5 linked regions of the Homo sapiens genome follow. The protein of the gene in region 3 interacts with the protein of the main gene of each other region in a biochemical or structural test. Each region holds a gene or a part of one and is shown on either strand. Other genes may lie near its edges.

Evidence for each region.
Region 1: of the proteins of USP28 (region 3) and STAM, one has a biochemical effect on the other in vitro, tested with the Homo sapiens proteins (one large-scale study listed by BioGRID).
Region 2: of the proteins of USP28 (region 3) and JOSD1, one has a biochemical effect on the other in vitro, tested with the Homo sapiens proteins (one large-scale study listed by BioGRID).
Region 4: of the proteins of USP28 (region 3) and OTUB2, one has a biochemical effect on the other in vitro, tested with the Homo sapiens proteins (one large-scale study listed by BioGRID).
Region 5: of the proteins of USP28 (region 3) and SENP8, one has a biochemical effect on the other in vitro, tested with the Homo sapiens proteins (one large-scale study listed by BioGRID).

Annotation. Positions count from the first base shown.
Region 1 is NC_000010.11:17,713,647-17,717,173, forward strand, and holds the end of STAM (signal transducing adapter molecule 1), read left to right. Parts: exon of another isoform or gene 1-896; coding exon 897-1,134; 3' UTR 1,135-3,178; downstream 3,179-3,527. UniProt on the Homo sapiens protein: Involved in intracellular signal transduction mediated by cytokines and growth factors. Upon IL-2 and GM-CSL stimulation, it plays a role in signaling leading to DNA synthesis and MYC induction. May also play a role in T-cell development.
Region 2 is NC_000022.11:38,687,988-38,690,964, forward strand, and holds part of JOSD1 (josephin-1), read right to left. Parts: intron 1,438-2,977; coding exon 1,309-1,437; intron 1,143-1,308; coding exon 948-1,142; intron 15-947; coding exon 1-14.
Region 3 is NC_000011.10:113,865,548-113,869,074, reverse strand, and holds part of USP28 (ubiquitin carboxyl-terminal hydrolase 28), read left to right. Parts: intron 1-3,527. UniProt on the Homo sapiens protein: Deubiquitinase involved in DNA damage response checkpoint and MYC proto-oncogene stability. Involved in DNA damage induced apoptosis by specifically deubiquitinating proteins of the DNA damage pathway such as CLSPN.
Region 4 is NC_000014.9:94,043,340-94,046,384, forward strand, and holds part of OTUB2 (ubiquitin thioesterase OTUB2), read left to right. Parts: intron 1-631; coding exon 632-716; intron 717-1,246; coding exon 1,247-1,441; intron 1,442-2,376; coding exon 2,377-2,583; 3' UTR 2,584-3,045. UniProt on the Homo sapiens protein: Hydrolase that can remove conjugated ubiquitin from proteins in vitro and may therefore play an important regulatory role at the level of protein turnover by preventing degradation.
Region 5 is NC_000015.10:72,138,876-72,142,402, forward strand, and holds part of SENP8 (sentrin-specific protease 8), read left to right. Parts: intron 1-436; exon of another isoform or gene 437-560; intron 561-701; 5' UTR 702-748; coding exon 749-1,387; 3' UTR 1,388-3,527. UniProt on the Homo sapiens protein: Protease that catalyzes two essential functions in the NEDD8 pathway: processing of full-length NEDD8 to its mature form and deconjugation of NEDD8 from targeted proteins such as cullins or p53.

The sequences.
Region 1 (3,527 bases), on a different chromosome or scaffold from region 3:
AAGGCATTATCTTCAAAATCTATCTAGACTCTGACCCTTTCTCCCATCTCCACCATTACTGCCGTGGCTCTTCTGCTGGTCGGCTCTCTCCTGGTGGATCGTAATAACCTGCAGTCAGCTATCCTGGTCCAGAGGGAGCCCGTTAAACCCTGTGGAATCTTATCACGCTTCTGCTCAGAACGAGCCAGTGTCTTTCTGTCTCACTCAGAGTGTAAGCTACAGTCCTTATTGTGGCCATCAGGTGCTGTGTGTTCTCCAGCCCCCTCCCCACCACCGCAGTCCTGCCGGTGATCTTAGCTGCTCTCCCCTCGGCACCCCCTGCGGCCCCCTCTGCCGCAGCACTCGTGGCCTGCTGTTCCTTGAACATGCTTGGTGTTTTCTCTCCTCAAAGGCTTCTTTCTGTTTACCTGAAATGTACTTTCCTAGGGAATCTATCTGGCTCACTCGCTTACTTTTTCCACATCTTTGCTTAAGTATTGCCTTATTGGAGAGGCACCCTACCATAAACTAGAATCCCTTGCCCCAGCTGCTCTTTGTCCTCCGTATTGGGCTTTGTTTTTGTTCTTACCAGTTAGAACCACTTGACACACGATACATGTGTTTGTTACCCTTTTCTACCACTAGAACAGACGCTCCATGGTGGTATAGACTTATTTCCGCAAACCACCCCCCCCAACTTTTTTTACACAATGGTTAAATAACACACATATTTTTAATGCAATGCCTGATATCACAAAGCCTAAAATAACAATGTTTGGCACATTATAGCTGTTTAGTAAAAGGTTATTAAATGAATTGACTATATGAATGAATGCTTAGTAAATAGCTTTTCCATTTATCTGTAGTTGCTCTATAAATCAGTATTGATGTAATTGAGTGTTTTTCTTCCTCCACAGTACAATGGTCAGTTCCGTTCAAGGAAACACATATCCCAGCCAGGCGCCAGTATATAGTCCTCCTCCTGCCGCTACTGCTGCTGCTGCAACTGCCGATGTCACTCTGTACCAGAATGCAGGACCTAATATGCCCCAGGTGCCAAACTATAACTTAACATCATCAACTCTGCCTCAGCCCGGAGGCAGCCAACAGCCACCTCAGCCACAGCAACCATATTCTCAGAAGGCTCTGCTATAGGACCCGGTGTTCCTCTTGGTGGCAGATACCTGCTAAATGCCACTGACAATGTTATGAGATTCATTACTATCTTAAGATGTGTTTATCCTCAGCTTATAGGAATCTCTCCAGGTCAACAGGTTCAAATATTCAAGAAGGTAGAACTCTCCTCAATTTACACTGACTTTTTAGAGGTTCTTCCCCCCCCGCCCCTGCAGAGGAATGAAACTACTTACAACATTTAATTCCTTTCATAATATGAAAGAATTGATACAAGGCTATTTGTCTCGTAAACCTGGTCTGCAGAAAGTCAAACTTACAAAAACTGTTGTGACAAATGTTATGTACATATATTGATATGTAACTGCATTAGTGGCCATTTTGAATCACAGTGGTGATCGTGTGAATATATTTAACACTGTGTTAAATTAATTTACGTTGCTATTTTATTTTAATCATAAACAACTACCATGTTTCTTAATGTTTTGTGTAAATTTAAGGTAATTATACTATCCTTTTAAACTTCAAGAAAACAAAGTTGTTAGCGTATTTACATGAAGGCGCATTATGTTGTCGTGTGTTTCAGTTTCACATTAAACTGAACCTTTTACTAATTGTGAGCTAAAGAGATATATATATATATGTGTGTGTATATATATATATCTACATGTCTTTCTGTAGCCTCTGCATACTACTGGCTGTCATCACACCAGCGTACAGTAGCTAAATTTTTGGTGCAATTATAGCAAATGATAATGTTCCCTTTTGAACTTTTACATTTTGGCATGACATTTCAGAGTATTGTGGGACCATGAGACAAAATTAAGTACGATCACATTCTTTATTTCTCATTTTAAAGAAATGATGTTGGTTTACCTTTTCCTAGTTGAAGATAGTAATTAGGTTTCTAAGCTGTATACTGTGTTTATTGGTGGCAGTGACACCAAAGATAGAGGCAATGGATAGAAATTTTTAAACTGGAAAGAAAACCTGAATTACACTACATTTTCGAAGTCTCTTGTAATTATTTGGGATATCAACAAAATTTGATTCGTCTGTCTAATCCCTTGCTAGTATTTTAAATATGTCTTTAACACATTGTATCCTTTAATTCTTCATTAAAATGGAAATAAGTAGATGTTTCAAAGTAATCTACATTCCTGGCTTTGCTTAACGTTTATATAGGTATTGTTTTCTTTCACACTGGATTTTTGGGTTGCTCTTTCTGGCCTTTTAAAATTCTAATGGAATTATTTTGGCTTCTTACTTGGGAATATTTTCAAATGAATGCTTTTCTTTTAATTCATGCGAAAAATGTTTTCCACTGACATTGTAATCTTAAATATTTACGATTTCCCTGGTTGGGCTATACTATTATTTTAGCACTATTTAAACAACGGAAAAGTTGAGTCGAACATCATATTTAATGAATTGATGTAACAGGTTTCATACTATAAATGAAAATTTCATTTTTATTTTCTAAGACTGTTGTAATCAGGTAGCTTGTTTATTTTCTTTTTGAGAGAAGATTAAATCTTTAGCCAGTAATCTTAAGGGTGACTAATTTCACAGACTCAGATTTAAAGCACCGTAGTTTTAAATCTGAGCCTGTGAAATTAGTCACCTGTAAGATTACTTAAGGGTAACTTAAGTGTTTCGCTCAAGTGTTGTGTTCTGATTTCCTGTGTTTAAAATATGTTGCCCTGCCCTGAAGTCAAATTTCACATTTTAAATACTATAAGTTAGTTTTTGATAAATATCTGTCGGATTATAATCTTTTCCACTCCAATTTGAGTATTATGGTTTAACTGATATACTTTTCTGCAATTTTTCTTTGTCTTTTGATAAATTCCTGTTTACCAATGTTAAATGTATCATTTTCCCATTTTAATTTTGATATCTTTCATGCTGAAAATCAATGACATAGTCTCTACTATGATTTTTGCCCTATAAAAGTCAAGTAACAGTGAATAGAAAAAACTACCCTTATTACAACCCATATACATTTTTCTTTACCTTTTACATTACTAGCCTTATAAAGGTTTAAATGATGAGTACTTTAAAACTGTTACTGTGTTAGTTTATGCCTTCCCATTATTAAAAATGAAAATACCAGGGGGAAAAAATCCAATGAAAGTGAAGCACTGGCTTGTCTTTCAAATGACAAGACGAGGGTAGAAATAGGAGGGGGCCAGTTAGGATCATGAATGACTTTAAGTTCTGAAACCTGCAGGTCTTGCACTTTCAAGAAATCTTTCATTAATAGCTGTCCTTATTTTGAAGGAATAGAATAATTTATAAAATGAACTAGCTGTAACATAGGCTGGACGCAGTGGGTCACACCTGTAATCCCAGCACTTTGGGAGGCCGTGGCGGGCGGATCATTTGAGGTCAGGAGTTCGAGACCAGTCTGA
Region 2 (2,977 bases), on a different chromosome or scaffold from region 3:
GTTTTAGAAACTTCCTATGGAAAAAGAGATAGAGAAAATGAAATGCTGGCAAGTTGCAAATTCCAGTCTCAGGACCACAAAGTCACCTGAAACCTCACTCTACCCTCGGCAGTCCAAAACACATCCCTGTAGTCATCTGGTTTTGGAGGGTTCCACATTTGGTTACCCTCCAATCTGTCCAGTTAAAATTCCAACCTGAATTTTGCTCATCCTTGTAGTTACTGCCAAGAGTAGCTGGATCTGTGAATAACAGTACCCAAAGTATATAAAGGACTTTTTCTTGGTTTGTTTGGAGACGGAGTTTCGCTCTTGTCGCCTGGGCTGGAGTGCAATGGCATGATCTCGGCTCACTGCAACCTCTGCCTCCCAGGTTCAAGTGATTCTCCTGCCTCAGCCTCCTGACCAGCTGGGATTACAGGCGTCCGCCACCACGCCTGGCTAATTTTTGTATTTTTAGTAGAGACAGAGTTTCACCGTGTTGGTCAGGCTGGTCTCGAACTCCTGACCTCAGGTGATCCACCCGCCTTGGCCTCCCAAAGTGCTGAGATTACAGGCGTGAGCAATCGCCTCTAAAGAACTTTTACAAATGTTCTTTGGTCCTGGGGAAATTCAGTGCTCCCTGGCCTGCATGTTTGTCTTCCTTTCTATGAACTGGCAACTACACTGTCTCAGTTGTCTTAAATAGAGAGAACGTTACAATGCCAGCCCCACCAGACTAGAAGGCTGGTATCCCAGGCTGGGCATCTTCCCTACCAAAAGGACTTAAAAGTACTGATGCGCCATTGAAGATTAAGGTCAGGTCCGAGACACTATGATTCTAAGGCAGGGAGAGAATCCAAGGGCACAGGAATTTCATTTCCTTTGTCAAATAACCAGAGATGAGCTCAGTGTCCCCAACCTAAGAAATGAAGCAGCCTAGCAACTTAGTCACAAAAGGTGCCGATTACCTGAGCTCGCTCTCGCCTCCAATCCACTCGGGCATCTTGAGTTTGGAGTCGAGGTTGTAGTAGGCCCCTCCCACCTCTCGAACACAGATCCAGTGCTGCCTTTTGAGGGGCAGTTTCAGTGGACCCCAGCATAGGCTGGAGGGCAGATTCATGATGAAGCCCATGACGTTAGTGAGGGCAATGACACCGACATCCCTGCAGGGGAGAAATGGTGGCAGGCTCTGATGCAGCCCATTTTCCAAGGTTCCCTGGCTGTAATACCACAACTGGCTACCTCCCCACTCATGCCATGAGCCCAAGTACTAAAAGCTTATACCACAACCGTGCTGTTCTCCATCAAGTCAAGCCTGATTCAGATTACCTGCGCTTGTCCCACCAAACAGCTTCATAGCCTTTGGTCTGAAGTGCTGCCATAATGACATTCACATCGTAGTTGCCATTTCCCAGCATGCTCTTCTTGTGAGGTGTCACCATGGTGTTTGGAGACAACCTACCAATGTGAAAAGAGGAGGGCTGAGACTTGCTGGATGCCTGAACCCCCTGACCCCGCACTACCAGGGATGGAGAGCACTTTACATCACTGCCCCTGGAAGTTAGTTTCCCCACATTCAAGTGCAATTTCCCCAGCTTCTACCTAAGTATTTTGTAAGTGTTCCATGAAGGTGACTCACTTATGAAATCCCAGCCTCCTGCAGCCTTTCTGCTCTTCCTCCTGATACTGATTTTCCTGCCTCATGCAAGCCTTTTTTTTTTTTAACATTGGAAAATAGGATTCAATCTTTTCATTTGCATGGATAGTAACTGGTGTCACTCCTGCTTTCTAGTTAAGGCCTGCAAACTTGGTAATCATTAATCATTAAATACTCAAAGGCATACAGGAGCCTAGACAGGTGACATAAATGTATAAACTGGGGTTGGATATAAGGCAATAAAAAGTAGTGAGGCCTACTGGAATGCACGACCCACCTAAAGGCATTCTGTGTGTGTGTGTGTGTGTGTGTGTGTGTGTGTGTAGTACTTGAATAAATTTTTCTTAAAATACCCAATAAATCAACTGAAAAAAAATTTGTGCCAGGCAAACAAAACTCAGCTGCAGCACTGGTTTGCCCACCCAGCTTGAAGCCATTTACTTCCAGGTTTCTTTAGCCAGTCTGTATTTTAAGACAAGGTCCATGCTGAAGGCATTTCTAATTCTATTATTTTACCTTCATAAACTTGTCAGGCCAGGAGCTGGGGAAAGGCCATTTTGAAGGAAGGGTTCAAGGGGCATACCTTTGGGCTTCGTGTGAAGGGGAGAAAGGGAAGTGTGGCGAGTTCCTCAGGACATAAAGTGCATGATCAAGAGGCTACTACATGCCATCTCCAGAAAAGAATCAAGACGTTAGGCCAAGGATGTCAACTCTAAAAAACTTAAGAAATCTTGTATTTTTAAAATTTTTCTGTGCACAGCAGAAATACTGGTATTTTTTTTCTTTCTTTTTTTTTTGAGTCGGAGTCTTGCTCTGTCGCCCAGGCTGGAGTGTGATGGCGCGATCTCAGCCCACTGCAACCTCCGTCTCCTGCGTTCAAGTGATTCTCTTGCCTTAGCCTCCCAAGTAGCTGGGATTACAGGCACCCGCCACCACGCCCACCTAATTTTTGTATTTTTAGTTGAGATGGGGTTTCACTACGTTGGCCAGGCTGGTTGGTCTCGAACTCCTAACCTTGTGATCCACCCGCCTCAGCCTCCCAAAGTGCTGGGATTACAGGTGTGAGCCACTGAACTCAGCAATACTGGTATTTTTCAAATATAAAACATACTCCTGGCCAGGCGCGGTGGCTCATGCTTGTAATTCCGGCACTCTGGGAGGCTGAGGTGGGCAGATCACTTGAGGTCAGGAGTTCAAGACCAGCCTGGGTAACATGGTGAAACCCCGTCTCTACTAAAAATACAAAAATTAGCCAGGCGTGGTGGTGCACGCCTGTAGTCTCAACTACTCAGGAGACTGAGGCAGCTAACTGCTTGAACGTAGGAGGCAGAGGCTGCAGTG
Region 3 (3,527 bases):
AGTCATCCTGCCTCAGCCTCCAAAAGTGCTGGGATTACAGGCATGAGCCACCGTGCCTGACCTCAGATGTTAGTATGCCTTATAAGGGCCTCATATGAGATTTATTTTATTTATTCCTTTTCTTTCTTTTGTCTTTTTTTTTTTTTTTTGAGACATGGTCTTACTCTGTCACCTAGGCTGGAGTAGTGCAGTGGCTCTATCATGGCTCACTGCAGCCTCAACCTCCTGGGCCCAAGCAATTCTCCTACCTCAGCCTACAGAGTAGCTGGAACTACAGACATGTGCCACCATGCCTAGCTAATATTTTTAGTTTTTGTAGAGATGGGGGGTCTCTTTATGTTGCCCAGGCTGGTTTTGAACTCCCGCGCTCCAGTGATCCTCCCGCCTGAGCCTCCCAAAGTTTTGGGATTACAGGCGTGAACCATGGTACCTATCTCTTTTTTTCTTTATTCGTATGAGATTTTAAACTGAAGTCTGTTTGCTTCTATCTTACAGATGAGAAATGCAGCTTATGACCATGATTGAATTATAAGTAGCAGAGCTGTGACTTCAAGCCATTCTGACTTGAAGCATAACATTTCTCCGACTTTAGTACAAGCCTTTCTAAAACCAAAGTTTCTGACTTACCACTTGACTATGTAGCACTTTAATAATTTTAATAACTTTTCATTGAACCCTCATAGGCACTCTATGAAATAAAATTTAGTATGAGCAGGAAGTAGAATTTGCAAAGTGACACAGCAAGTAAGTGATAAAACCAAAACTATAACACAGGATATCAGTATTTTTACTGTAAACTCTAGAGGAGTTTAGTTGAACAGGCAAGTCCCAGTATTTTTCATTTCTATTGCATTTCTTCATTTTGCTAACAATTTATTTGCAGTACTTCCTTTGATAGTCATACAGGGCTGTCAAAGCTTTTGGTGTACTTCATTTTCCATTCTGGAAACTGATGCTGAGGAAGATTGAGATTTGCCAGGAGGCTGATGTGTGCTGGAGTCTGGGCTGCATGGCACTATTTCCAGCGTCTAGGCTTTCTACGTAAAACAGGGGTCAAAATATCAGACACACAAAACCAAACTAAAGATCTGCCTCAGTAAGTACCAGCTGCATGCTACATGATGGCTGGTAGGCACTTTAACCCTAAGAAGATTTTCTAAACAACATTTTCTTTTTCAATCTTCTTGCCCAAGTTAGTACTTTCTTGTGTCCCCTCCCTCCCTCCCTTCCTCCCTTTCTTCCTCCCTCCCTTCCTCCCTCCCTCCCTCCCCCCTTCCTTCTTTCCTTTTGTGTGGGGATGTGTATACAGGTTTCCTTATTCATTTGTTTTTTCATAGAGTTGGGGTCTAGCTATGTTGCTCAGGCTGGAGTGCAGTGGCTATTCACAGGCATGATCGTGGTGTACTACTGTTTGAAAATCCTGGGCACAAGTGATCATTCTGCCTCAGCCTGCTGCAGAGCTGGAACTACAGGTGTGTGCCACTGCACCCAGGTGATTTTTTTTTTTTCAATTGAGGCAAAATTTATATAACATAAAATTATTTTAAAGTGGGGCTGGGTGAGGTGGCTCACTGAGGTCAGGAATTCAAGACCAGCCTGGCCAACATGGTGAAGCCCCGTCTCTACTAAAAAATATAAAAATTAGCCAGATGTGGTGGTGAGCACCTGTAATTCCAGCTACTTGGGAGGCTGAGGCAGGAGAATCACTTGAACCCGGGAGGCAGCGGTTGCAGTGAGCGGAGATCATGCCACTGCACTCTAGCCTGAGTGACAAGAGTAAAACTCTGTCTCCAAAAAAAAAAAGTTCAAGTGTACAAGTTCAGTGACATTTAATATATTCACAATATTGTGCAATCACCAATTCCGTCTAGTTCTAAAACATTTTCATTACCCTGAAAGAAAACTTTGTAACCATTAAGCAGTCACTCCCTATTCCCCCATGCCCTCCACCCCTGGCAATACCAATCTACTTTCTGTCTCTAGATTTACGTATTAGAGAGATTTCATGTAAATGGATCATGCAATATGTGACCTATTATGTGTGGCATCTGTCGTTTATTGTAATGTTTTTGAGATTTGTTCAAGTTGTAGCATGTATGAGTTTTTCATTTTAATCACTGAGTAATATTCCACTGTATGTATAGATATGTTTTGCCTGTCCATTCTTCCATTGACGGACATTTGAGTTATTTACACCTTTTGGTTATTATGAATAGTTCTGTTATGAATTTTCATATACTTGTATTTGAGTACCTGTTTTCCCTTCTTTTGGGTATATACCTAGAAGGAATTGTTGACTCATATGGTAATTCTATGTTTAACTTCTTGAGGAACTGCCAGACTGTTTTCCAAGGTTGCTGGGGAAGTTTTATATTCCCACCAGCAATACACAAGGGTTCTAGTTTTTCTCTTTTCTCATCAAACACTTGTTATTTTTTGTTTTTGTTAGATAACAGTCATCCTAATGGGTGTGAAGTGGCATCTCATCATGATTTTGATTTGGCCATGTTAATGTTATGGCTAATGTTAAGTGTCTTCATAAACTTATTGACTATTTATATATCTTCTTTGGAGAAATATCTTTTTAAGTTCTTTGTCCATTTTTGAATTGGGTTGTCTCGTTTTTTGGTTGTTGACTTAAAGGGAGTTCAAAGAGAGTTTTTTATATCATCCAGATGCTAGACTCTTACCAGATAAATGATTTAAAAGTATTTTCTCCCATTGTCTTTTCACTTTCTTGATAATTTGTACACTGTGTATTTCTTTTTTCTTTTTTTTTCCCCAAGACAGAGTCTGGCTCTGTCACCTAGGCTGGAGTGCAGTGGTCTGATCTCGGCTCACTGCAACCTCTGCCTCCTGGGTTCAAGTGATTCTCTTGCTTCAGCCTCCCAGGAAGCTGGGATTACAGGCGCGTGCCAACACACCTGGCTAATATTTGTATTTTTAGTGGAGATGGTTTCACCATGTTGGCCAGGCTGGTCTTGAACTCCTGACCTTAGGTGATCCACATTGGCCTCCCGGAGTGCTCGGATTACAGGCATGAGCCACCGTGCCCGGCCAGCACTGTATATTTCTTGTTGGATTTCTTGATGTATGTGTTTATTTCTTGAATTTGTATACCGGTTGTCTTTTCACTTTCTTGATAATGCCCTTTGATGCAGAAAAGTACATCAGCCCACTTCAGTGTCCCAAGTAGCTGGGACTACAGGTACACACCACCATGCCTGGCTCAAAAGTGTTATTATTTTTTTCTTTTGTTGCTTGTGCTTTTGGTGTCATAGCTGAGAATCCATTGACAAATCCAAGGTCATGAAGACTTATCTCTGTGTTCTAAGAATTTTATAGTTTTAGTTATTTATTTAGGTTGTTGATCCATTTTGAGGAATTTTTGTGTATTGTGTGAGGTAGGGGTCCAGTGTGATTCTTCTGCTGTGGATATCCAGTTGTACCAATACCATTTGTTGAAGACATGATTTTTCCCCCATCAAATGGTGTTGGCACTCTGGTTGAAAATCAGTTGACCACAG
Region 4 (3,045 bases), on a different chromosome or scaffold from region 3:
GGCAGCCCTTCCTCCATACCTCGTTGCTGCCACTAAACTTGGGAGTGTCCTGGAGCCAGGGCCAGGCCCAGGCCTGGGTTTCTTGCCATACCCCCTGAGGGCACCAGGACAGGTCCCAGAAAGGGGCTGCGCCATGAGGGGGCCTGCAGTAGGTGCAGAGAGTAACAACCCAGCATGCGCAGAGCAAGGGCCTGTGGAGTGGGTCCCCAAGGGTAACTTGGTGCTGGCAGATGCTTAACAGCCGGCTGTGGGCGTGCGGGAGGCCTGATGTGTGTTGTCAGCCGATTGCTGTGGTGTCAGTATTCAATATTATCATGACTGAGTCAAGCTGCCCTCATGAGGTCACTGAGTAGGGAGTTGGAAAAGATGCAAAATCACACACGCCCTTGTCGTATCGTCTTTCCACCATGCACACACACACAATGCAGCTCAGCCACCAGGGCCCGGCAGGGCCAGGGTGGAGATGTGCACGGTGCATGTGGCTGTGTGTTGGGGGCAGGGGCGGGAGGTTCTGCGGCTGGACTAGAGATGAGGTTGGTGGGCGCAGTGGGTTGAGAGGGGGACGCACAGTTGCCAATCACAGCACTCTCGCTGTGTTTCCCTGTAAACACTCAGTCTTCCCCCTCTGTAGGTTCAAAGAACGCGTACTGCAGACCCCAAATGACCTTCTGGCTGCTGGCTTTGAGGAGCACAAGTTCAGAAACTTCTTCAATGCTGTGAGTTCACCTGGTCCCTCCTTCCACACTGGCAGAGCAGACAGGAGTGGGCACTGGCTGGAGCCCCTACACAGCCCACAGCTCTGCTCCTCCTGGCTGGGGAAGGACAGAGGGTTCCTTCCTGCTTGTGGGGGTGTGTGGGCACAGGGAGCCCTCACCCTATTCCCTCACCCTATTCCATCTCCACCTCATGCCTCCCTATCCAATTAGTGAAGGGGCGGGATCGAGGACTCTCAGACGCTTGCCACTCTGAGTGTGCACGTGAGAATCCAAACCCAGGTAGTCATGGTGGGGAGACCCAACTGCCGCTCCCAAACATGCCTCTGGACTAGTGTACAAACTGCAAAGTCTTGCTAACCCTGGGTTACTTAGCTTAGGCAGAATCTCAGACTGATTTTCTAACTCAACCTGAGAATCTACAAATGAAAATGCACGTGAGGGCTTCACGCGAAGGGAGGGAGCGGAGGGAGAATGCAGAGGGAGGGCTGGGGCTTGCTTGGCCTCCCTAGCTGAGGGCCGGGCGGGCGCAGTTTTACAGTGTGGTGGAACTGGTAGAGAAGGATGGCTCAGTGTCCAGCCTGCTGAAGGTGTTCAACGACCAGAGTGCCTCGGACCACATCGTGCAGTTCCTGCGCCTGCTCACGTCGGCCTTCATCAGGAACCGAGCAGACTTCTTCCGGCACTTCATTGATGAGGAGATGGACATCAAAGACTTCTGCACTCACGTAGGTGCTTGGGGTCTCAGCCCCAGCCCTGGGCTCTGCTCCTGTGGCCCTGTCCTGCAGACTTCAGCACCCATCCGTAGCCAAGGGACTCGGGTGTCACGACTGCCCTTGCAATTCAAACAGAGCTAGGTCAGCAAGCTGCAGACAGGTCCCACCTGAGCTGCCTGAGCTGTGTGGCCTGAGGCAAGTCACTTCCCCTCTCTGGAGATTTCCCATCTGAAAAATAAGGGATTTGGACTGGCCTGTTTACAAAACCACAGTCATAGTCCAAGAGTCACATTTGCTTGACGTGTTTATGATGCATGGTATTTACCAGAAAGAGTTGCCGATATTTAAAAATTAGGCACTTTTCATATGAATATTTGGATTTCTGCTGGAAAGTAAGAAGTACAGCCCCCAGGTCCTTGCTCTTGCAGGGCAGTCTCAGCAGGCACTAAGCAGCAGCTGCCCTCTCTATGTAGGACATACGCCTGCTTGCCACCGCCTCTGCTTCTTCCATCGTCTCTGCAGCACCCGGACTCGCACCCTCACTCACCAGCCTAGCCTCTGTAAACACTTAAGCTTGAAAGGCACCCCTGGATGACAGGGTGCCTTTTATCTCTAAGATTCTTTGATGCCCAACCTGAAAAATGTCTGCCCCCCGTTTCCAGATCCCTCTAAATTAGTAGCCTGCTGTCAGGTGTAACTACAAGGTCTAGAATGGAAAAGATTCAGGTTCGATTCTTGCAATTGTAGCGATTTCTAGCTATGCTGCCTCTCAATGAGGCTGTTTCCCGTGTGGCATGAGAACGTCCATACCCAACTCATGGGATGTTGTGAAGATGACGTCCCAGCACAGAGGCTGTGACCATGACCCTGAGAGCCAGAGCTGAACTCACTTGTCCTCTGCCAGGCCTCCCTCCTAAGCTGGCTTGTTTTCATTTTGGCCCCTGCAGGAAGTAGAGCCCATGGCCACGGAGTGTGACCACATCCAGATCACGGCGTTGTCGCAGGCCCTGAGCATTGCCCTGCAAGTGGAGTACGTGGACGAGATGGATACCGCCCTGAACCACCACGTGTTCCCTGAGGCCGCCACCCCTTCCGTTTACCTGCTCTATAAAACATCCCACTACAACATCCTTTATGCAGCCGATAAACATTGATTAATTTTAGGCCATGCAGTGGAACCTGTCACCTAATGGGACTGCATTCTGAATGGAACATTCCGGCTCTTCAATTTTTTAAGCAATTTAGACTGTAGCAAGAAAATGTGCAGCCTTTTGGGCAAAGCCCCTGGGAACGAGGCCTATCCACTATGGACTATGGTAACTTGGTAGGATTTTTAGTATTTATTTTAATGGAGGGACAAATGCTTTCTAACTGGGCCCCCGACTCCGCACCCCAGTTCGCAGTGAGGCCCTGGGTGGGTCACCTGCCCTCTCTGGACTTGTTTCTTCAACTGGAGGAGGTCCCTGCCTATGCTGACATTCCATTGTAGAAAAATGGGGCCTCTGGTGTCTCTTTACCAGGGGCAGTGCCTCTCTGCGGGGGAGGAAAAGCTCAAGGTTAGCTGTCTTAACCCAAGTGACTTACCAGGCCTACAAAAGAGTCCAGTCCAGTCACTT
Region 5 (3,527 bases), on a different chromosome or scaffold from region 3:
AATCGCTTCAACCCAGGAGGCAGAGGTTGCAGTGAGCTGAGATCGTGCCACTGCACTCCAATCTGGGCGACAGAGTGTGACTCCATCTCAAAAAAAAAAAAAAAAAAAAACTTTACTACCAATAACATAGCCAATTAACAATAACATAGCCAATTAATACATGTTTTGTAAATGTATTATATACTGCATAATATATACCTTACCAATAACATAGCCAATTAACACGTTTTGTAAATGTATTATATACATTTACAAATAACCTTACCAATAACATAGCCAATTAACACGTTACCTTACCAATAACATAGCCTTACCAATAACATAGCCAGTTAACACATGTTTTTTAATGTATTATAAACTGCATTCTTACGAAAAAGTAAGCTAGGGGAAAATATTAAGAAAATCATAAAAGAAAATATATTTACTATTCATTAAGTGGAAATGGATCGTCATAAAGGTCTTCATCCTCATCATCATGTTGAGTAGGCTGAAGAGGAGGAGGAAAAGGAGCAATTGGTCTTGCTGTCTCAGGGGTGGCAGAGGCAAAAGAAAATCCATGTGTAAGTAGATCTGCACAGATCAAACCCACCTTGTCCAAGGGTCAACTGTGTATTTTTTTACCACAACCCTATAAAAGTAACTACTATTTTCCAGCCGCATTTTACAGTCAGGTATTTATTGACAATAATATTGTCTTCTAGCTCTTGTTCAGCTTCTGGAATTTCTGAGCAGCCCTCGTCAGTACAAGATGGACCCCGTAGTCTTGAGTTACATGGACAGTCTACTGCGGCAATCAGATGTCTCACTATTGGATCCGCCAAGCTGGCTCAATGACCATATTATTGGGTTTGCGTTTGAGTACTTTGCCAACAGTCAGTTTCATGACTGCTCTGATCACGTCAGTTTCATCAGCCCTGAAGTCACCCAGTTCATCAAGTGCACTAGCAACCCAGCAGAGATTGCCATGTTCCTTGAACCACTGGACCTCCCCAACAAGAGAGTTGTATTTTTAGCCATCAATGATAACTCCAACCAGGCAGCTGGAGGAACCCACTGGAGTTTATTGGTCTACCTCCAAGATAAAAATAGCTTTTTTCATTATGATTCCCATAGCAGGAGCAACTCAGTTCACGCAAAGCAGGTAGCAGAGAAACTGGAGGCTTTCTTAGGCAGAAAAGGAGACAAACTGGCCTTTGTGGAAGAGAAAGCCCCTGCCCAACAAAACAGCTATGACTGTGGGATGTACGTGATATGTAACACTGAGGCCTTGTGTCAGAACTTCTTTAGGCAACAGACAGAATCACTGCTGCAGCTACTCACCCCTGCATACATCACAAAGAAGAGGGGAGAATGGAAAGATCTCATTACCACACTTGCTAAAAAGTAGCTATTGAAGTATATTTGCGACTTTTGAAGGCTCCTCTTTCTGCCCTTCCCCATTTGTTGGATGGCTGCAATCTCAGTGCCTGAGGGAAGATGCCTAGTAGAGGAAAGCTTAATACTCTTTTTCCTGAAAGAATATCATCCTCTGCATTATCCCCATGGAACGTTTCACTTTAACCCTGACTGGGGAGCAATATGTTCTGTGAAAATATCTTGAAATTGTACACCAAAACCTTACAACCAACTTATTTGAACATTTATTACACACAGGGTTTACGTAAGACTTTTCTTATTGGTATATAATTAATTTCCTTTGGTCTCCCTTATCCACATTGGCTTATTCTGGAGGAAAAGCAGTGATCTGTAAAACAAATCAAGAATATATTAAATCTAGAGGAATGCAGAGAAGAAAACTATAAAACAGAACCAAAAACTTGTTGCACAGCCTACATAATTAAGAGATCAACTGGCTGGAAGCAGATCAAGGCCTAACTTCATTCAAGACCTAAATATTATGAGACTCAGTTATTCGGTTTTATGTGACATCTCTTCCATTCACCATGCACAGGCTTTTCCAGCTATCTATATAATGTTTGCAAATATTTGATAAAGATGATGTTACCCTATCTTCCTCCATCTGATTCCTGGAATGCTTGAAGAAAGGGGAAATCTTGAGTAACCTCATTAAAATTAATGTCTGGTGGACCTCTCAGTTTGCTCACTGATTGGGTAGACTTGCTACTCTGGATTAATAACTGCTTTTCTCTGCCTTGTCTATTAGCCATGCACACACTTCCTCCTTATATCCAAAGTTCTTTGGTTCTAAAATTCATAGTTGATACCTTCCCAAGGTTACCTGTTGTTTCAGATAAACATTTGTTCTTCCTGATAGTTATAGGTTTTCCTCTCTGTCCTTAATTCTGGCAGAATTGTTTTTAGTTATGTCATGGTAATTTCAGGATGATTTTTGTATCTGAAACTTAACAGACTTAGAGTTGGTTTGTTTTTTAAATATAAAGGAAGAAAAGTGACCTTTCTCAGCCCTTTTACTTAATTAAAAATGCAGGGAATGTAATTTGTAAAATGTGGAACCAAGAGTAGAACGAAATACTATCCCTCCAGAAGCACTGATGTGTTTCAGTTGTTTCAAATAGTAAACAACCAGATGACATGTTAGGTACACAAATTAATTCTATTCCTAATGAGAATTAGATTGCAAGGCCTATGAGACTTGAAAACCAAAGATGAGCTTCAGCCATGAAACTTATTTCAGCTACCTCCCCAGCCTAACCCTGCCCCCAGCCCTCATGGCCCAAAATAACCTCACCACTCAGTGACCACAGAGAAAGTAACTTGGTTCCTTTTAGCCGAGAAGGGAAAACACAGTAAGGGTAAATAAGTACAGGTTACATAGCAGGCCTGAGTGAGCAGGAGCTGAAACTAAAAGTCAAAGAGAAAGCTATCAAAAAAAGTTTCCATTTCAAGTCGGTACATTTTGGATAAAAACCAGTCCTAATGGAAGATGGGGCTAGGAAAAAGATTAGGAACTGGCAGTCATCCATAGAGGTGAAATACAGAGGGAGGGACAGCAAGAGAAGTGACAAAGGTCACTGATGATAGGCCACAAGTGTAGATAAAGATAAGAAAACAATGTTATTTCAGTGACTGTTGACTTAGGCAGCTAATCTAGACTATTAAAGTCAAATCCTCTCTGGGAAAAGTTATCTTTCTGACAATGCAAAGTATGTTTATTTAAATATCAGAGTATCTTCAATCTGAGAATTAAAGCATATGAAAGCAATCTTTCCTAACTCCCTACGATTCATCTTATAAGTAAATTTATAAGTAAATTTTTAAACTACACTAGTCTTTTAAATATATATAGAAAAATATATATACACACGTATAGACATGTATATGTAATCTATCTACATATATATAAAAAATGCATTTTCCAAATGCATTAGCCTGATTGGACTGTGCCACAGATTAGTGTCCTCCTATGAAATTTTGAGTATGTCATTTGTAAATGTTAGCATTATAAATTGCAGGAGAATTTAAGAATTGACTTGTATTTCACTGGATACTATAGTACCCGGTAAGTTACACACCTGCTTGACCACATACCATTCATGTTACATGAC